Linked DNA regions of Homo sapiens. The protein of the gene in region 1 interacts with the protein of each later gene in a pairwise test. Each region holds a gene or a part of one and is shown in the gene's direction. Other genes may lie near its edges.

Region 1 (7,102 bases):
AACCTTGCAAAATCCTGTTACTCAAAAATAATAATAGGATAATTAGCCTCTTGATTGAGTCTTCCATCTCACCCCATATTAAAGAAATAGTGGCTAGCATTCTCCTCATTTGGATTCCTGAAACTGGATTCTGTTTTTAAATTTCCTTGGAGGAGATTTTCTTATAATACTCATTCTTAAGTGTTTGCAGTCTTAGGCTAGTGAAATAGTACAATCTAATGACCTGCTCGAGAGTTTTCTTTATCTCACCCTGGGTAAGTTATTAAATAACTTTTATATTTTTTCTTAGATATCTTAATGCAATTCAGACAATGTGTCCACACATTCTTCGCTATTTGACTACAGCAGTCATAACAAACAAGGATGTTCGAAAACGTCGGCAGGTTCTAAAAGATCTAGTTAAAGTTATTCAACAGGTAAAACTAAAATATATATTGATTTTTTTTTTTAAATACCTAAGCTTTAGGTCTAACCTCTTTTTCTAAGGTAAGACTTAGTTCTTAAGGTACAAACGTTTTTAAAAATAGGTGGAAGGAATACTTGAAGTTTAGAAAAGAGAAGACCCTCAAATGGGCTTTTGTTTTCCTTAAGTCCAAGATACACAAGTTGGATGTGGTAGGAATGATTATTACTGTCTGCTAGATGAACACTTAATATATACATTATGTGTATGTGTTTCTCTTATTGCAAAGAGTGAAGAAAATCTGGAACCTGGAGGTGGGGGTCATTACCTGTGTAATTCTACATGGGTGAACTTTATATACAATACCGTTTCAATAGACCCCAAGTTGGGCAAAAGGTTTCAGGCAGCCATGCTGATTGATATTTAGTGAGCTTGTCAGCAAAACCCGTAGATTAGAAATATAACTTAAATATTTATTTAAGAGTGTATTAAATACAAAGAAGTTATTGTCATTCAGTAGGGAATGAATACCCTTATGATTGGGGAAGTTTATTACTGTTTATTGACCAAGGGAGACTTTTGGTAGTAGAGGAATTTGAAAGCTTTCAGAATGCTTCTAGGATGAGACTTTAGAGAACTTGGTTTGAAAGACATAATAAGCTTAAGGTGTGGTCTGGAATCAGGATAGGAACAATTGTTTTGGGAAGATGCTAGGTAATTTGGCTAGAAATTAATGGTAAAGAAGGAGAAAACAAGAAGATTGGGATATTCTGGGGCAATCTGCTAAACAATGTTGAATCAGACTTACCTTGACCGTTGACTTATTTTTACAGGAGTCTTACACATATAAAGACCCAATTACAGAATTTGTTGAATGTTTATATGTTAACTTTGACTTTGATGGGGCTCAGAAAAAGCTGAGGGAATGTGAATCAGTAAGTGTGAATTTTTATTTATAAACTAATACTATTCTTAAATTTTTGGATATTGTAACGTTAATCTTGCAGTGTCTTCCTTAAAGTAATGAAGTAATTATAACGGAAATATGCTTATTAATCTTAAAAAGGCCTAAATGGCTCATGTTTATTAACCTTAAAATGGCTTAAATGGCTTGTGTTTATTAATCTTAAAATGGGAATGTGCTAGAGTGATGACTTTTTTAATGTTGTTGCCATGTGTTTATCCCTTTTGTGAGGGAGTTTGTTAAAACATTGGGGGTAATTTAAATTTACAGACATATCCATAATTTCATGTCTTAAATCTCGAATGAATATTTTTAATATTTCATATGTACAGGCAAGGTCACTTTGAATTGCAAATAACAACTGTGTTTTTAATTTTGGTTCATAGATGGGCTTATCTTTAGAATATTTCCCATGGTTGTATTTAACATTTGTGATAAACCAGGCAATTCATTGTAATTACGAATTTTATAACGGCGGTGTCTCTTATTGTTTAGTAGAAATTAAAGTACCTTTAGAGCAAATGGAAGACTTATAGTTGTTTTGAATAATTAGTTTACAAGTTTTAAGAAACTAAACTAAGAATTCTAACTGCTAAATGTAGTTGCATTTACCAGATTCACAAGTTACTGGTTATCAGTTTCACCCTTGGAACCAAAATTTTGGCACAAAATGGGCAATTTGTTGACAAATATCTTACTTCTCTAAGGAAAAAAATGATCATGCAAATATCCATTCCCTGATGATTTTCTTATTTTATTTTTTTTCAGACAGAGTCTCACTCTGTTGCCGAGGCTGGAGTGCAGTGGCATGATCCCGGCTCACTGCAAACTCCACCTCCCGGGTTCACACCATTCTCCTGCCTCAGCCTCCCAAGTAGCTGGGACCATAGGCGCCCACCACCACGCCCGGTTAATTTTTTGTATTTTTAGTAGAGACAGGGTTTCACCATGTTAGCCAGGATGGTCTCGATCTCCTGATCTTGTGATCTGCCCACCTCGGCCTCCCAAAGTGCTGGGATTACAGGCGTCAGCCACCGCACCTGGCCTCCCTGATGATTTTCAAACATTAGATGGAATAGAAAATTAGAATCCAATATGGTAATTGGTGTTTTTTTTTGTAGTCATATATTGCATTATTAAGGTAAATATTGGCGTATATTCATTATGCTAAGTGTCTAGGTTTTGATGTTAAAAGACCTAGAGGGTACTTGGTTGCTGTTCTTGAAATTAAAATATTCTCTCTTAATTACACCATCTGTGGAATAGTAGCCACCTTTTGCATTCTTTTCCTTCTAATTTCTAAGTCTACTTAATATTGTAGAAATACTCCGAGCTTGTAGTCCATTTATAATTATTTTAAATAGTTGGAAGAGATAACATTATCTGCAGAGCATTTATGTAGAATAATGGATAGTACCAAACTTTGTTGTCAGAAGGCTACTTTATTAAAGTTATCAGAAACATTGCAGTTTTTAGGTCTTTATCTTGTGGTATTCGTTTACTACTTATTTAAATCATTAAAGATTTGAACACAGTGTTCTAGAAAGTGCTGTGGTATAAAACTCATGATTGTAGAATGGAAAAATAAAGCAGATAAAGTATTTGATTCACGTTTCAGGCAATTGCTTGTCAGCATCATTAATTTTTGTTGTATTTGTACATATAGGTGCTTGTGAATGACTTCTTCTTGGTGGCTTGTCTTGAGGATTTCATTGAAAATGCCCGTCTCTTCATATTTGAGACTTTCTGTCGCATCCACCAGTGTATCAGCATTAAGTAAGAACACCGTGATTTGATTTGGATTTTCTACTTTAAAATTCCTGGAAATTTCCATTTATTGTGAATTTACACTTAATAGAATTCCAGTTAATTGGATTTTTATTTATTTTTGCTTTCAGAAGAACAATGAAACAATTTGATAAAATTATTTAAAAACCTAACTTTTGCTACAGGCTCAGATAGTTTTAGCTTGAGTGGCATAATTTTTCAAAATACTAAGTTGAAGGCAATATATGATTATCAGTTACCTTATTGAAGAGTAAATACTCTTGTACCTTTACGTAAGGAGAAAAGTGTAGTAAACATTTCTAAAATGGTTTTCAACAACAGTACAAAGGAGATACCCATTAAATTGGAAATTCTGTTGAAAGACCACTACATTTGGTAATCCTTTCCATTTAGTTTGTATGATTTAATTACATATTTGACTTCTCCTATAGTAAACTCCTATGGCATCTTAAAATGTTGAAAGATGGAAAAATTATAGTGAATTTTAGTTGTAATTTCCTGTTTTGTCAGAAAATATTGGGAAAAAATTGTGAAATGTACATAACCTATTAGAAATAAATTGTACACATTACAGTTTGAAAAATGACTAGTGCCCTTTGGGCACAGAGGAAGTCAAACAAATGTTTAAAAACCTACTGCTTTAGTGTTTGCTTCTGAGGAATTGTGCATAAAACAAATTCTTTTTCTTTAATGCCATTTGTTTTTGCTTATCCATACTTCGCTTGCCTAATTTTAGTGGGCCGTCCGTTGAAGTGGTTGTCCAGAGTTAGAAGGATAGTATAATCATGGGATTTTTCCTATGGGAATTGAATCCTTGCCTTCACAGTTTTATTAGCACTTTACTGTAGCTTGCAGACAGAATTTTTTAAACCTGATTCTCTTACAAATTACATGAAAATTCCTAATAATGTAATTGGTTATGAAATAAAGAGGTAGGTACATCATATGTGGGGCTCCGGTGGATAGTAGTAACTGAATTCTTGCATTGTTCTTTGTTTTTAAGGTTTGTAATTAGGGCTTGTGAAAGAGGGATGTTAGTATTTTGGTTTCCCTTGTAGAATTTTCTCCATTTCTCATTAGAATGTGGTCATTTGGGTGCTTTTTGGTCCAGAACTGACTTAGCTACTACCGCTGTTGTGGGCCTTTTGAAAGCTGACCCTTTTTTTTGCATCTTTAGCACCTAACATACTAACTTTGTAGCACCTAATATGCTTTGTACAGTATAGTGTGAGTATACAATATAAATATTTGTTAAGTAAATTTCTTCTGTTATTAGTGAACTTGGCATTTTTGTCCATGATAATGCTTGTCTGCTTTGGTGTTTGCTTCCGAGGTACTATCAATAAGATTTGTTGTAGCTCTTTTCCTTTAACTCTGCAGCCATGTATTCATTATTTTCTTTCTTGGGATTTGGTTTATTATCTTTTAAGAGGAACATAGATTAAGTATGTGTTCTCCTTACTGAAGGGAGATGTGCAGCTCAAAGAAGTTAATAGAGTGGGAATGTTTCTATATACCTTTATGTGACACTACCTAAGAATTTTTCAGACTTTTCTCCGTGTAGATTTTTATTACTTCCTTGATCTCTGTAGTTTTCTGCTAGACAAAAATCTACAAAGCATTTTCAGACTAAAGTCCTAGTGGCTTTCCAGAGTCTAAAAATATTTTTTTTTCTAGTAGTAGCATTTTCTTTCACTTCAGTTCTTCAATTTTTTTTTCAATGTTTTACTAAGATGATTAAGAGTACATAGATCAATAATGTATGTTTTTCTTTTTCTTTCTTTTTTTGGGGGGAGACACAGTCCTGCACTGTTGCCTAGGCTTGGGTATAGTGGTGCGATCTCTGCTCACTGCAACCTCTGCCTCTCGCGTTCAAGAGATTCTCGTGCCTCAGCCTCCCAAGTAGCTGAGATTACAGGCATGTGCCACCACGCCCAGCTAATTTTTGTGCTTTTAGTAGAGATGGGGTTTCACCATGTTGGCCAGGCTTGTCTTGAACTCCTGGCCTCAAGTGATCTCCCTGCCTTGTTCTCCCAAAGTGCTGGGATTACAGGCGTGAGCCACTTGCGCCCAGCGTTTTTTCAAGTACTATGGTAGAATTTTCAATCTGAAAGAAATCTTAGGGATCTTCTGATCCAACAACACAGTTACTTTTCAGGTGAAGGACTTCTCAGTAGAATTTTCTGTAGTGATAGAAATGTTTTATATCTGAAAATGTGTTTCTATGTGTTCAGTACAGTATACTTCATAGATGGCTCACATTTCAAGATCTTGAAGTATGGTTTCCAAATCTCTGTGTGACAGTGGGACTTATTTTCAAATGTAATATCATATATATGAATATATGTATTTATATATGTGTATAAGCAGATCAAAGCAGAGCCCATTCACCGTGCCTATCTTACAGTTCTGTTCAGCTTCTCTCCTGACTACTAAGACACCTCTTTGGAACACAGTTTTACAAAACACTGACTCAGAACAACTGCATTGTTTTGTAGCCAGGAAATTTAAAGCTCAAGGACATTAAGCTAGGTCTTGATAGAGCCTGTACTAAAGGTATCTGACATTCATTGTACTGTACCTCACTGTAAGTTCTTTTATATTGTGAACAATTTATATTTTTAGAAATGTCAGGTTTAGATTAATTTGTCATTTAGTTTATCAGTTGAGCCAGAGGATAAAGATGAAAACCCTAAGTCACTTTAACTCTGTGTTTCAGAATCTTTGTAGAGTTTGTTTTATAAACTCCCTATAGCCACCCTAAACCATTGAATCAGATTTATTGAGTAGGCTATGCTATGATTTGCAGCAGGGCTGCTGTGCTGTATCTTGAGGGTGGTTATTCCGAAGCACAGCCAGAATCCAAAACCACTGCATTAGGTAACCAGTTTTTTAGGCGTGTAATTACAGCCTGCTAAAGTAATGGAGTGAAAAATCAGTAATTTAATACCTTTATTATATAATGAATTAAGAAGATAAGCTTCTTCGTGTTTCTAAGGATGCTTTAGTGGGTTAGAAAGACAAAAGAAACTACCATCAGAGTGAACAGACAACCTACAGAATAGGAGAAAATTTTTAGCATCTACCCATCTGACAAAGGGCTAATATCCAGAATCTACAAAGTACCTAAACAAATTTACAAGAAAAAAACAACCCCATCAAAAAGTGGGCAAAGGATATGAACAGATACTTCTGAAAAGAAGACATTTATGCAGCCAACAGACATATGAAAAAATGCTCATCATCACTGGCCATCAGAGAAATGCAAATCAAAACCACAATGAGATACCATCTCACACCAGTTAGAATGGCGATCATTAAAAAGTCAGGAAACAACAGGTGCTGGAGAGGATGTGGAGAAATAGGAACACTTTTACACTGTTGGTGGGACTGTAAACTAGTTCAACCATTGTGGAAGACAGTGTGGTGATTCCTCAAGGATCTAGAACTAGAAATACCATTTGACCCAGCCATCCCATTACTGGACATATACCCAAAGGATAATAAATCATGCTGCTATAAAGACACGTGCACACATATGTTTATTGAGGCACTATTCACAATAGCAAAGACTTGGAACCGACCCAAATGTTCATCAATGATAGACTGGATTAAGAAAATGTGACACATATACACCATGGAATACTATGCAGCCATAAAAAATGATGAGTTCATGTCCTTTGTAGGGACATGGATGAAGCTAGAAACCATCATTCTGAGCAAACTATCACAAGGACAGAAAACCAAACACCGCATGTTCTCACTCATAGGTGGGAATTGAACAATGAGAACACTTGGACACAGGGTGGGGAACATCACACACCGGGGCCTGTCGTGGGGTGGGGGGAGTGGGGAGGGATAGCATTAGGAGATATACCTAATGTAAATGACGAGTTAATGGGTGCAGCACACCAACATGGCACATGTGTGCATATGTAACAAACCTG
Region 2 (7,000 bases), on another chromosome or scaffold:
GACAGTATATTATCCTTCAATTTCTGGTCTAGCTATATATAGTTTACAGCCTCATTTACTTTAATGTGCTACTTGAATAACATAATCATAGCTATAACTATGGTATAGAGCCATAAGGTGCATGCATGCGCCTCTATGTTTTTTGACTATTTAAATGGCTTCTTCATAAATGTATTTTTAATAATAATGGCAAACCTTTTAGTAACTAAATGTCAAAAAGTAGTGAATCATTCATTAGTTGGTTCCTTTCCCAACTAAAATGTTTAATATATAACATTAAGAGCAAAGTTATATTGCTTTTATATTTTCTATATACTCTAACCCAGAGATTTTTGCTATGAATTCACCCCCATTGACTTCTGTTTATGTGCAGTTACGTAAGCTTCCTAATGTATTTGTCTTTTCCTTTTCTTCTCAAACAAGATGTGATTTTCATCAAGGAAGGTCAACGGAGAATATATTGCAGAAGAATATTTATGCATACACCTAGGATAAAATCCACTTGTGTACATCATAAAGCATTGTGTATTGTAGCTTTACAGAGTATATTAACATCATCTCTCTTCACGATCTCAGATTTCTCTGTAAGAGTTTGTAAAAAAAAAAAAATGTTTCTTATTCTAGGCTCTTTGGTGTAACGGGAAACTGCGCTGCCTGTAGTAAGCTCATCCCTGCCTTTGAGATGGTGATGCGTGCCAAGGACAATGTTTACCACCTGGACTGCTTTGCATGTCAGCTTTGTAATCAGAGGTAAGCAGGTCTCTTTTTGGTCTCTAAGAAATGGTTAACCTCTCTGTGCTGGCTATTTATTTAATAGGTGGAAATTATATTCATACATTTAAAGCAATCAATCTCAGCGTTTTTCTGTTCTGTAAACTTTAATCCCATGCCAGAGACAAGCTACTAAGGAGAAGAAAGGTCTTAAGACTTACTTCTACCTGAAAGAAAAGCATCATATAAGAGCAAGTAACAGAAAATGGAAACACTACCGTAAACTCTGACTTCTTTTACTCATTCCTTCTTTTATTATTTTCCTGTCTTTTTAAAAGTAGTTTTAAATATCTACTTTTTTATACTACTTATGTGAGTAAATAAATTGGCAATGAAGCAAATATACAGGAATTTGTTGCAGGTATTTTATATTCTTATTATTTTTTATATTTTAAATTCCTTATCCCTCATGTTTTTGTTTTTGCTTTTTTAAATACAAGGTCTGGTTCTGTCACCCAGCCTAGAGCGCAGTGGCACTAACATGGCTCATGCAGCCTCAACTTCTGTGCTCAAGCAATCCTCCTGCCTCAGCCTCCCGAGTAGCTGGGAGTACAGGTGTGCACTCCCATGCCTGGCTAATTTTTTTTTTTTTTCATTTTTTATAGAGATGATGGAGTTTCACTATGTTACCCAGGCTGGTCTCAAACTCCTGGCCTCAAGCAATCCTCCCACCTCCACCTCCCAAAGTGCAGGGATTATAGGCATGAGCCACCACCCCCACCCAATCTAGCTGTTTACCTTAAATTTTAACCCTGTCCTATATGTACTTTTGCAGTTACTTCAAATATCTTTGAGAATCAGTCCAGATATAGCTAATAATTAAACAATTATTATCATTGGAGAGGAGCATTTGAAAAAGTGTTGAACAGGGAACCTGGAAACCTAAATTCTAATATGGGCTCTGCCACTAATAAGCTGTGCGATCTTAAACCAAACAAACACCTTCCCTCTCTGGACCTCAGGTTTTTCATTTGTAACATATGAAGCTGGATTAGTTCATCTCAGAGAATTCTTTCAGCTGAAAAGTATTATCACTTAATTCCATTTTTTCTTATTGAAAGTTATATTTTTTATTTCTGTGAAAACTATATACTACTGGCACCTGTTTTATATGATAAATGGAGAGGATTTTAGAACATTAAAATGTACGTATTAAAAATACAACATTTCAAAAATTAGAACACTTGATAGATTTTAATGAAAATGAATTCACTGACTTTCTGTGAGAACACCTGGCAGAGTATATAATCAATAAATATTAGTTGCATCAAGTTCTCAGTTATTGTAATTTACTCTGAAAGGTACTATTTGATGCAGAATCTTCTTATGAGACCCTGTAGAATAGTAGAAAGAATGTGACATTTCTAGTGAGAACGGGATTCAAATTTCAGCACCACCATATATTAGCTGATATATTAGCTGTGTGATCTTGAGTATGTTACTTAATCTCTCTGAATTTGATTCCCACACCCATAAAATAGAAACACTAACACCTCTCTTGCAGAGTTTGAAACTTAAATGAAATAATTAATTTATATTAAATGTCAGGAACACAACAGGTTCTCAAAAGTTAGTTATCTTTATAATTTACCAAATAATATTCCATTAACTTGACTTTCCCACAAGGCATGTATCACAATAGTGTTTCTTGCTAAATGTAGATATTCAGATTGTTGCCTAATGTACCTTATAATGTAATAGTTACCCAGACAGTCATGTAAGATGTTATCTTACAATGTCTTGACTCTTCCCAGCAAGTACTGAGAATCAAAGTAAGTTCATTCAGTCTAGGGTAACATTTAGACGAAAATAAATTGGCAAATGCACATGTTTTTGGTAGGGATAAGGATATACAAACACAAACATTCCCACATCCATACAGACACCTTTATGTGCATGTATATATGTATTTTATACATTTTAAAGGTGTCTTAGTAGTAAATTTAGAATACTTTTGTTGACTTGTCATGTTGATCAACTAATAGCAGCCAGTAACCATGCAGTTCCCATTATGGAATCATAAAGTCATTGCTTTTCTACTTATAAAAGATTACATATTCATAGTAGGAAATTTAGAAAATAGAAAATGATAAAAACAAGACATTGTCCCATGTCTCATTCTTCTAAAAGAAAACATTTTAATATTTTGATATATAGCCAGCCATACATGTTCCTATGTCTATAGGACAAATGACATTGTATAAATATTACACTCACATTTAAGCAAATTAAAGTTACAAGGGAGAATCCTAATGTTTGATATTTGGACTTTTTCACTCAATTTATATTTTGTGCCTTTTTTACCTGCCATTAAAAATTCTTTTAAGATATTTTAAGCTTTTCTGAGTTCAGCTTTATGGACAGAGCTTCACATATGTCTTCTATCATCAGATATATAAGTTGTATCTTCAAAAGTTTTTGTGCTGTAAATATTATCAGTATTATCAATATAAAAATGGACCTTATGAGACCCTGTAGAATAGTAGAAAGAATGTGACATTTATAGTGAGAAGAGATTCAGATTTCAGCACCACCATATAGTAGCTGATATATTAACTGTGTGATCTTGAGTATGTTACTTAATCTCTCTGAATTTGATTCCCACACCTACAAAATAGAAACACTAATACCTCTCTTGCAGAGTCTGAAACTTCAATAAAATAATTTATGTTAAATGTCAGGAACACAACTGGTTCTCAAAAGTTAGTTATTTTTATAATTTACCAAATAATAGTCCACTAACTTGACTTTCCCACAAGACATATATCACAATAGAGTTTCTTGCTAAATGTAGATATTCAGATTGTATAAAAACAAATGCTCATATCTCTATCTGGTTAAATTCACAGAGCATGATTACTTAAACAAGGTATATAACAGTTTGAAGGCATATGCTGTACATTGCTTAATGATCTCCAGGAAAGTTATACCAATTATTCTCCTAGCAGAAATCTACAAAACTACGCATTCCCTCACATTCATTCTAAAACACTAGGAATTACGTTTAAAAAAAAAAAAAAAAAATCCTTGCCACCTTAAGGGATGAAAGATAGTATTTCATTATAATTTCTAACTGGCATTTATTTGATCCCTGGTGGTCCTTTGGTATTCCTTCTTTTAGAGAAGTAGGCAGTTTATGTCCTTTGTCCATTTTCTTCTATTAAGTAGGGTTACCTATTTTATCCATGTTCTACATAGAAAATAAAAACATTCAAGTGCTAAACCCAGCCTAAATTCTATTATGATGCAAAGTAATTGTAGGTTGTTAATGCTATTTACAAATCATATATCTATTTTATTTCACCATTGAAATAAAAAGTTGCATTCACAATTAAGTCTGTCTCCTCAGGAGAACTCAGTCAAGTAAGACAAACACTCCTAAATTTTGACTCTAAAACTGTTCACATTCTTATTGCTGCGAAATACTATTCTAGTATCATTATTAAAGTACCTAATATATTTCTGTGTTCGCTTCATTTATTACATGCCATAATGGGACTGCATATCTTTAGTGCCGGTTATGCACAATTAGCACTTAGTTATTGTCTTGTCACTTCAGCCCCTACAAGACAAACTAATGCGGGAAGTCAGCTAATCTTCATCAGTCAAGCAAAGCAGACAAATTTTGTTACCCAGGATACAGAAGGTTTTCATATAGGAGATTCTCCTTTTACTCTGAAGTTTGCTTCAGTCTCCTCCAGGAAACCCATATCCCACTTCCAGTAGCCAAATCATTGTCGCAATATTGCACTTTTCAAGTGAAACACAAGGCAAATAGGTAATTCATAGGCATTTTCTCTTAAGCAAACTTTATTGACGTCTAAAGTTGTGGAATTACGCGTTTGTGAATTGTATTCAGCAGTCATTTCATCTTTACCTTTAAATCAAAGTATCATTAAGATCCAAAGCATTTCTGAATGTTTTAAAAAGTAGCAGTAATAATAACCTTTCAGGATTGATTGTCCCTTATATATAGATCTCCTCTGCCCCTTTTAGAGGCGTATAGCTAAAACGTGAATCCTGCATTAAAATTCGGCTAGTTTCTCTATTTTAAAAGGTACCGCAGGAGGGTTATTTAAGCTTATTTTATGATATCTTGAATCTCATTCAGAATTGGAAGATTCTATATAACAGGTTAATTTCTTAAAGGTGAATAAGCCCCTTCTCCTTAGAAAACACAATAAAACTAAATGATAGTTTTGTAAGAAAAGGAAAAATAAAAAGCTTGTGATGAAATTTTCCCAAATATGTAAAATTATGTAACAATTAATTAATTTTCTTTTTTTTAAGAATAAAGCACTGTGCTAGGCTCTGTGGAAGCTGAGGTGGATAAAATCTGGTTTATTTCTTAGAGGTGTCCGGAGCTACGGGAGAGACAGGACATCAAAGACTCACAGAAGAGTGTAATCGATGCTAAATAGAGCTATACTGAGGGAAGAGAGAGCCATCCTTCTTGAAGTGTTAGGGAAGCATCAAAGGCCTGATATGCTGGGTCTTGAAAAAAGAACTCCCTAGAACTGGTTGACTTACAGGAAGTGTGTCTGCTCGGGGTTGGGGAAGATGAGGGAGCCAGGGAGCAGTGAGGAAAGGAATTTTCAGGCAAATTGAGCAACGTGCAAAGGCATGCAGATGTGAAAGCATTTGACGTGTTTAGGAAATGAAAAGCGGCTCAGTATGTTCAGAGATTAGAGAAGCGGTTTGGTAGGCACATGGAGGAGTAGAAAGAGAGCAAGCACCTAGAGGAAATGAAATTGTAAACTTAGTCTTTGAAAAGCCATTAAATAAAAGTCAAAATGAATACAAATTTAAATTAGTCATCTAAAATACATTTGTTATTTAAAGCTGTTGGTTTCTGGAATAAATCTACCTTAACCAATTTTTATTGACCACACACCTTAAGTGGTAGTACAGTTTATGATGGTTCTGCAAAGGGTTCAAAAGAAATATAACTCGTGGTCATTTACCGCAGAACTGCTGACTATAATGGCAAACCAGTTACACATTCATGAGAAATTTTGAAACACCAAAATAAACAATACACCAATAAATAAGTGCTTTGGGAAACATCAGAATAAGCAAATTTACATGGTCAGAAGATGTTGATGGAGGCAATGGGAACTCAAGGATTGTTACAATTTAAGTAGACAGAAAAAGGGGAGAAATATTTCTTGCTAGGGAACAACTTAAGTAAAGGTGAAAAGATTATCATTACCAAATAATAATGATAGCAAATTCTGATAAAGTATTAGTCAAACACCAAACACCGTTCTGAGTGTTTTACATGTACTCATTCGTTTAATACTCAAAATATCCCATAAATAGGTAGTTATTAGCTTCATTTGACAGATGAGGAAAGTAAAGTATAGGAAATGTAAGTAACTTGCCCAAGATTACAGTTAGAAGAAAGTGGTAGACTCAAGATTTAAACCTGGCCGGGCGCGGTGGCTAATGCCGGTAATCCCAGCACTTTGGGAGGCCGAGGCGGGCGGGCGGATCACGAGGTTGGGAGATCGAGACCATCCTGGCTAACACGGTGAAACCCCGTCTCTACTAAAAAATACAAAAAAATGAGCCGGTCGAGGTGGCGGGCGCCTGTAGTCAGAGCTACTGGGGAGGCTGAGGCAGGAGAATGGCGGGAACCCGGGAGGCGGAGCGAATCTGGTCTCCCTCTCCGGAGTCAGGCCCATTTCAAGAGAGGTATTTTATTTTCTGACTAAGAGCATATAAATGTGAATAGATATAGTGGACTTAAAGTAAGGTAAACTTTGAATAATGTATAGCAAGATTTGGGGTGTGGGTAGTGTCATTTGATACACTAAGGGTTGTTAGCAGTGAGATGTATAATGACAACCGGACTGTCAGTGGGAAAGACAGTAAATTTGTTCACAGGTGTATAGTGGAGGAATGAGTACACAACCCGGACTTCTTATTGAAAACAGTATAGTATAGAAATCTCTAACTTACAGTTAACTGAAGATGTGGAATAGGAAAGTATAGACACTAGAAATATGGATTGGAGCTCCCTAGCTAAGTGTTGTAAGATAGAAATTAATCATAATTGTCAGTCACTAACATTAGGGAAAGAAGATGGCTAGGCTAACATTTTTATTTCTTAAAAGGGATGTTACCAGTGGAGGCTTCTTAGCATAGGCTTTTGATAACCTGCTTAAAACTAAGCACTATATTTTATAAGGATGATTTACTATTTACACTTGTTTCATATACTTCT
Region 3 (7,456 bases), on another chromosome or scaffold:
CTCACTGCAACCTCCACCTCCTGGGTTCAAGCGATTCTCCTGCCTCAGCCTCCCAAGTAGCTGGGATTACAGGCCTGCACCATCACGCCTGGCTAATTTTAGTATTTTTAATAGAAATGGGGTTTCACCATTTTGGCTAGGCTGATCTTGAACTCCTGGCCTCAGGTGATACACCCGCCTTGGCCTCCCAAAGTGCTGGGATTACAGGCGTGAGCCACCACGCCTGGCCTCAGTAAAGCATCTGTACACAGAAACACTCATAAGACAAATGATGCATTGCTCAGCTGATGAGAACATTGGGGCCAGAGGCTCGCAGGACCCTAAGCCTGTGTCTCCCCTGGGAGCCATGGTTCAGCAGTCCAGGCATCACTAATTCAGTGCTCACAGCAGCTTTATAGAACACCCCTACCTCTAGAAACAACTGCTATGAATGCAGCAATTGCTAGAACTTAGCCCAGCAAAAGGGGATTTTGTGCTGACATGATTTGCATGGACAGTGGCTGGGAATCAGGAAAAGAACACTGACTTGTCTTTGGTTTCATTCTGGTTTTTCATTTTCCGCAGACATCATATCCCTCAGTGCACTGGCTGTCACCTCCCCCTGCCCGCCACCTGCACACTGTGGCTTTGAGGCAGCATCTTCAACACAAATTTCAGGAGGAGCCCAGGTCCAGAGCAAAAGGGTCTTGTTTCCCCAGAATCCAGGCGAATGGCGCAGGGCTCTGGCAGGCGGATGCACTGACATCAGCGTGCATTTACTTGTTTGTTGCTTGTCTCTACCCAAGAGAATATCAGCTCCAGAAAAGCAGGGACTTTGTTTAACACAGCGTTAAGAGACAGGACTCGACCAGTGTGGATCAATTAAGTGAGGATGTTTGCACAGCAGGCTCCGGGCCAGCGAGTGGGGGTTAAGGCTCCTGAAAGTAGCCGGCTTTGAGATGTGGTGGGGGTGATCCTGAATTATCCAGGTGGGCTGAGAGCGTAATTGCCAGGTGGATGTGATGGGAGAGACCTCACCGCCCACCACTGCCTTTGAAGGTGGAGGAGGGGCCACGAGCCAAGAAAGGCAGGTGCCTTGAGATGCCAGAGAAGGCAAGAAACAGACTCCCCTGAGCCTCCAGCAGGAGCCAGCCCTGCCAGTGTCTTGCTTTAAGTTGAATGAGACACATTTCAGACTTGTGGCCTCCAGAACTGTGAGAGAAGACGTTTGTGTTGTTTTAAGCCACTAAGTCTGTGATTGGTACATCAGCCACAAGACACTAATACAACACCTAAACTCGGGGTTTGAAAAGGCCCCTAGGGCCCTAGAGCCCTCCCTGCCCCCGGTCCAGGCCTTCCTGCTTCTGTTGTGCAGACTCAGGCGCTGGCTCACTCAGAAGCCCCCTGCAGGCCCGGCCAATCCTGTGGCAGAGCCTCGACGTCCCACGGCGGCCTCTGAGCCGCCAGGCCCTACAGCGTGTGGTGAGGGGCGCAAGAGGTGTGAGTGCCTGGACCTTGCTCTGCCCCGTGTCTGAGGACCTTGCCCTGCCCCGTGTCTGAGGACCTTGCCCCATCCTCGGCACCCAGAGCTGTGCAGTCCATAGGACCAGGCTGGTGCCCAGCCCCAGGTTGGTGCCTCAGCTGCCTCCTCAGCCTGCAGTCTCCACTGTTTGACTGACCATGTGCAGGGCCAGCTGTGAAGGACAGCACAGCTCCTCCCTCCCTGCCAAGTGTCAGGGGCACTAAAAACACTGCCATCAATGTTCTGATGTTTAAATCATGTTTTGATGCAATGTTTAAACAAATCAAAATGGGTCGGGCGCAGTGGCTCACGCCTGTAATCCCATCACTCTGGGAGGCCGAAGCGAGTGGATCACCAGAGATCAGGAGTTCGAGACCAGCCTGGCCAACACGGCGAAACCTCATCTCTACTAAAAATATAAAAATTAGCTGGGTGTAGTGGTGTGTGCCTGTAATCTCAGCTACTTGGGAGGCTGAGGCAGGAGAATCGTTTGAACCCGGGAGGCAGAGGTTGCAGTGAGCTGAGATTGTGCCACTGCACTCCAGCCTGGGCGACAGAGCGAGACTCCATCTCAAAAATAAATAAATAAAATAAATAAGTAAATCAAAATGAATGCAAAAAATTTGTGGTGGACAAACTGTCAACATTTTACATAAAGCCAGGATGAGGACGACGGCCTTCTCCTTTTGCTTCAAGCTCCAGCATGGCTCTGCCCAGCACTGACCGTGCTCCTGGCCTGGCTCGACCCTCCCCAGGGCCAAGCTCCATGCTGGTTTCCATCCCAAAGGACTCTTCTTCCCCCTCCCTGTGCCCCGGGAATAGGCAGCCAGCACAGTGGGGCCGCCCGCTGCCTCACCCAGACCCTGCCACTGCTTGGATGTTGACCCCCAGACTGGAAAGGTGGCTTTAAACCCCCTTCCCTTCTTCCAAGCCAAGTGACCTGGGCGTGCGGCTTAACCTTCTAAGCTCCCATTTCCTGGTCTATGAAGCGGGAATGATGCTGGGACCTGCTTCACAGGGTGGCTCTGAGGACCCACAGGCAGAGAGGTCTGGTGTAGGCTTTCGGGGGAAGCACCCATCACTCTCCCAGCGTTTCCTATCTGCACCTTAATTTGGCACCCCAGGGAATCGCTCCTCTGGAATTGTAACCTTGCAGGGCAAAAGCTATCATTTCAAGATTTTTTGGGATCCTGTGTCCCCGGACAGTGCTGTAAATGTAGGAGGAAGGGTGCTGCTCATGGGTGCTGCTCATGATGGAGGTGCCCCGTGGAGCACGCCTCGGAGCCCCCCCTTTCATCCCTGATCCCATCTGGGATGTGTCAGGTCTGATCCGCATACACTGGGGCATCTGACATTTCATGGCCTTCTGAGCCCATGGGCTGGAGATGAATTTGCAAAGCCCGGGAGTGTCCTGGGTGTGTGTTCACTCCACACGCACGAATCTGTTAGAGGCTGAGTAGGAACTAGGAGGCCAAAGAGAACCAGGCAACTTCCCACAGCCTGGACCGTACACTAGAAAAGCTAGCCTGGGAGAGGGGGCATGGCCTCTTCCCAGGCTGGCAGGGGGGATGTGGGGGAGGACCATGCTCCCCAGGGCCAGTTTACCAAAATATCAAAATACCAAAATATCAAAAGACTTAAAACTAGGAGTGAGCCAGGTGCAGTGGCTCACGCCTGTAATCCTACACTTTGAGAGGCCAAGGCAGGTGGGTCACCTGAGGTCAAGAGTTTGAGACCAGCCTGGCCAACACGGTGAAACCCTGTCTCTACTAAAAATACAAAAATAATAATAATAATAATAATAATAATAATTAGCCAGGTGTGGTGGCAGGCACCTGCAGTCTCAGCTACTCAGGAGGCTGAGGTGGGAGAATTGTTTGAACCTGGGAGGCAGAGGTTGCAGTGAGCTGAGATCGCGCCACTATATGATCTGGGCGCCACTCTGGGTGACACAGCAAGACTCCATCTCAAAAACAAACAAACAAAACCGGGAGTGCCTGGACACTTAGTGAGAACTGGACAGGGGCCATGGGTCGAGGAGCAAAATAATCACCAGGACTTGTGGATAACAGGATCATGTGGGTGGTGGGTCCGCATGGGTGACAGGGACGTGGGGACATGTCGCCACCCTGACAGGAGCAGCCCAACTCAACAGCCACGGCAGGTCATGCCACGGAGGCTCGAGGCGTTACGTGGGGATGTTACATCAAGGCATTACATCATTACGAGATGTAACGCTCGAGGCGTTACATCGAGGGGACGATGGCCATGGGGCTGGGCGTCCAGGGTGGGCCGCAGAGGGAAGCTCACCACGTGGTGCTCTCATCTGCCCACAGCCCAGCCCGTCTTCCTGTTGGAGGCATGTGACCCCTGGAGGACAAGCATGAAACGCCATAGGGCTCCCCCAGGTGCTGGAATTATGGCACCTTGCAGCTTCTTCTCCACGAGTTTTAACAAGCATGCGTACTTTTGTAAGTGGTGAGTGTAACGGAGGTTCACAGATGCACTCCGCTTTGGAAACCAGTGCACTCTTGCCCAGGCCCGGTGAGACTCTGAGGACGATGTGTCTAACCTCTGTGTCTAACGGGGGTGTGTGCTCTCCCTCCTCTGGCGACCATGAGGACCACCCCGGCAGGACAAGGTGTGCAGAGAACTAGCATGGTCCCTGGCACGTAGCCCCTGCCCAGTGACTGGCAGATGAGAAGCTCCATTGTCGCCCCAGGCGAGTATGGGGCACAGGCGCCTCCTTGGGTTGTCTGCCCTCCCGGGAGCCCCAGGGTGCCCAGGCGGGCCTCAGCTGAGTCCAGGCCTCGGGGACAGTCCGTGCAGCCCCTCCTGGGGCTGGGGGCGGGCACTTGTCCCAGCCACGTTTCTGCTGACTGAGCAGCCTTCTTCATGAGCTCACGCCTTTCCAGAGAAATCCCTTAATGCCTCCATTCTGCTGGTGGCATATATAGGGAGGGCTCGGCCTTGGCTCCACACTGCGCTGCCCAGAGGCCCCGCTGACTCCTGCCAGCCTCCAGGTCCCCGTGGTACCAAAGCTGAACATGGACGTGACCATCCAGCACCCCTGGTTCAAGCGCACCCTGGGGCCCTTCTACCCCAGCCGGCTGTTCGACCAGTTTTTCGGCGAGGGCCTTTTTGAGTATGACCTGCTGCCCTTCCTGTCGTCCACCATCAGCCCCTACTACCGCCAGTCCCTCTTCCGCACCGTGCTGGACTCCGGCATCTCTGAGGTAAGACGTGGCCCGTGGTGCTGGCCTCTCCTCGCTGCTCAGAGGGTGGTGGCCTCGGTGGGTGGAGAGCGATGGACTCTGGTCTTGCTCCGTCAGGCAGGTGGCCTCGTCCCACTTCATCCCCTTGCAGAGGCTGGGCGAGAGCCTGTGTCCCCACTGCAGCCACGTGGCAGAGCTTCCCCTGGCACTGGGGAGAGGGTGGACAAGGGAGCAGCCTGAATCCACCTTTGCTTTCCTCCATCAGCTCATGACCCATGTGTGCTTTGTAAGGCACCAGCCACATACTGGAAACCCCAAGAGCAGCCCATCCAGGCATGCGTGGTGGCGAATGCCAGCTCCCGGGTTCCTCTGGTCTCCTGAGTCCCGGAGACCTGGGAGCAGGTGGGGGTCATAGTCCTGAAAGCCAGAGAGCAGGGCGTTCCTAGCACCTCCTCCAATGAGCTCGGCCTGCCCACGGCTAGCAAAGCTCTTGGCAAGTTTACTTAGGTGCCCTGCCAAGGCTAAAAGGACAGGCAATGGACGCCCCCCCCCCCACCCAACCACAGGCCTCCTCTCTGAGCCACGGGTGAGCGGTGCAGGTTCTGCTGTTCTGGAGGGCCTGAGTCCCACCCAGCACCTCATAAACAGGGTCCTCCCCAGGGCTGCTGCAGTAGGCATCAACGCCAGGGTGCAAAATGCCTCAGGGAGCCAAGGCTGAGCCAGGGGAGTGAGAAGGAGCATGTGGAAGTGCGTTTTGGAGAGGCAGCTGCGCAGGCTGTCAGCAGGCTCCGGCCGCTTCTATAGACAGCATGACACCAAGGGCAGTGACCTCATTCCACAGGCTGAGTCCAGCCAGCCAGCCAAGCATCACCAGCCAGACGATTGACCCTAACGGACCAACCAACCCGTAACGACCCCTCCTACCATAACCAGTAGCCAGCCAGCCCATAACCAGCCAACTTATCTATAACCAGCCACCTGACCATAGCCAAACAACCAGCCGGCCCACCAGTAGCATTCAGCCCCTCAGCTGGCCCTGAGGGTTTGGAGACAGGTCGAGGGTCATGCCTGTCTGTCCAGGAGACAGTCACAGGCCCCCGAAAGCTCTGCCCCACTTGGTGTGTGGGAGAAGAGGCCGGCAGGTGACCGAAGCATCTCTGTTCTGATAACCGGGACCCGCCCTGTCTCTGCCAACCCCAGCAGGGACGGCACCCTCTGGGCAGCTCCACATGGCACGTTTGGATTTCAGGTTCGATCCGACCGGGACAAGTTCGTCATCTTCCTCGATGTGAAGCACTTCTCCCCGGAGGACCTCACCGTGAAGGTGCAGGACGACTTTGTGGAGATCCACGGAAAGCACAACGAGCGCCAGGTGAGCCCAGGCACTGAGAGGTGGGAGAGGGGGGCGAGTTGGGCGCGAGGACAAGGGGGTCACGGCGGGCACGACCGGGCCTGCACACCTGCACCATGCCTTCAACCCTGGGAGAGGGACGCTCTCCAGGGGACCCCGAATCAGGCCTGGCTTTTCCCCAAGGGAGGGGCCGTGCCCACCTGAGCACAGCCAGCCCCTCCCGGTGACAGAGGTCACCATTCCCGAGCTAATGTGGCTCAGGGATCCAGGTTAGGGTCCCTTCCCGGGCTGCACCCAGCCGTCGCCAGCTCCATCCCTGTCACCTGGATGCCAGGGTGGTCTTAGAAAGAACCCCAGGAAGTGGGAGTGCCCCGGGTGGCCGCCTCCTAGCCAGTGTACATCTTCACATGAACCCTACCTGAGGAAGCCAGTCCCCGACGGCATAGCTGCATCCGCTTGGAATGCTTTACAGGCATTGACACCTTCGCCTCACAGCAGCACTTTGGAACCAGTGTCCTCATTATTCCAGGGCACGGCTGGGGAACAAGGGGGTCCTCAGCCTGCTGGGTCCCACAGCTAGTACCGGGCAGGTGGACGGGAGCTTCTCCCCACAGTCACCCTGATGCCCCGCTCTTGCTCGGCTGGAGGCCTCGGATCTCCGTGGTGTTGAGGGAGCCGGGGCACTGGAGCCCTGGTGACCTGCATCTCCTGGCGGAGCCGGGAAGAGCTCATGGACTGTCACAGATGGACAGTGCCCCGCGGGGGCTGGAGAGCAGAGTGGGGCTGGAAGGTGGAACTCTTAGCCAAAGTCTTGGTTTCTTTTGGCCAGGGTCCTCTTTCAATGGCTGGAGAAGGTGGTGCTGGGGGGTGAACGCTGACCTCCTCATGTGCTGCCCCTCCCTCGCCTGGGCCCGGTAAAGCCCCCACGTAGCCCCAGCCAGCCTGGAACATGCTTCCTGAGCTCCCAGCTCTTGGTCTTTGCACCCAGTGGAGGAGGAGGTCAGCCCAGGGAGCTGAGTCTGCGGTTTAGGGCGTCCAGGGGACGTGGAAGCATGTGGGTCGTCTGGCCACATTAGGTAGGGCTGCAGAGACCTGGGCTAGAGCAGTCCTGCGGGGTCTGGAAGGGGAAGACTGGCTGAGGTGCGGGGCCTGGTCTGGAATGATCCTGCGATTTTGGAGTGAAGCCATGGAGCGGGAAGAGACAACCCCCCGCGGGGAATAGCCCGGCAAGTGGCCACGAGGCCAGGCTGAGGTCCAGAGAAGCAGGGGCATGAATCCATAAATCCCAGGGGGCCTGGCCATGGGATGTGCTGGCTGCACCCGGCCCCTGTGAGAGCCCCCGCAGGCTGGCCCCCTTCTGCAGTCAGTGGGGCTGGGGCAGCTTCTCTG

What was found.
Region 2: the proteins of EIF3E (region 1) and LMO3 interact in binary tests that used the Homo sapiens proteins (3 or more experiments, as listed by UniProt).
Region 3: the proteins of EIF3E (region 1) and CRYAA interact in binary tests that used the Homo sapiens proteins (3 or more experiments, as listed by UniProt).

The regions. Positions count from the first base shown.
Region 1 is NC_000008.11:108,210,648-108,217,749, reverse strand, and holds part of EIF3E (eukaryotic translation initiation factor 3 subunit E), read left to right. Parts: intron 1-289; coding exon 290-416; intron 417-1,236; coding exon 1,237-1,338; intron 1,339-3,033; coding exon 3,034-3,143; intron 3,144-7,102. UniProt on the Homo sapiens protein: Component of the eukaryotic translation initiation factor 3 (eIF-3) complex, which is required for several steps in the initiation of protein synthesis.
Region 2 is NC_000012.12:16,554,163-16,561,162, reverse strand, and holds part of LMO3 (LIM domain only protein 3), read left to right. Parts: intron 1-624; coding exon 625-750; intron 751-7,000.
Region 3 is NC_000021.9:43,164,552-43,172,007, forward strand, and holds the start of CRYAA (alpha-crystallin A chain), read left to right. Parts: upstream 1-4,456; 5' UTR 4,457-4,548; coding exon 4,549-4,737; intron 4,738-5,684; exon of another isoform or gene 5,685-5,780; coding exon of another isoform or gene 5,781-5,858; intron 5,859-5,965; coding exon 5,966-6,088; intron 6,089-6,485; exon of another isoform or gene 6,486-7,031; intron 7,032-7,456. UniProt on the Homo sapiens protein: Contributes to the transparency and refractive index of the lens. In its oxidized form (absence of intramolecular disulfide bond), acts as a chaperone, preventing aggregation of various proteins under a wide range of stress conditions.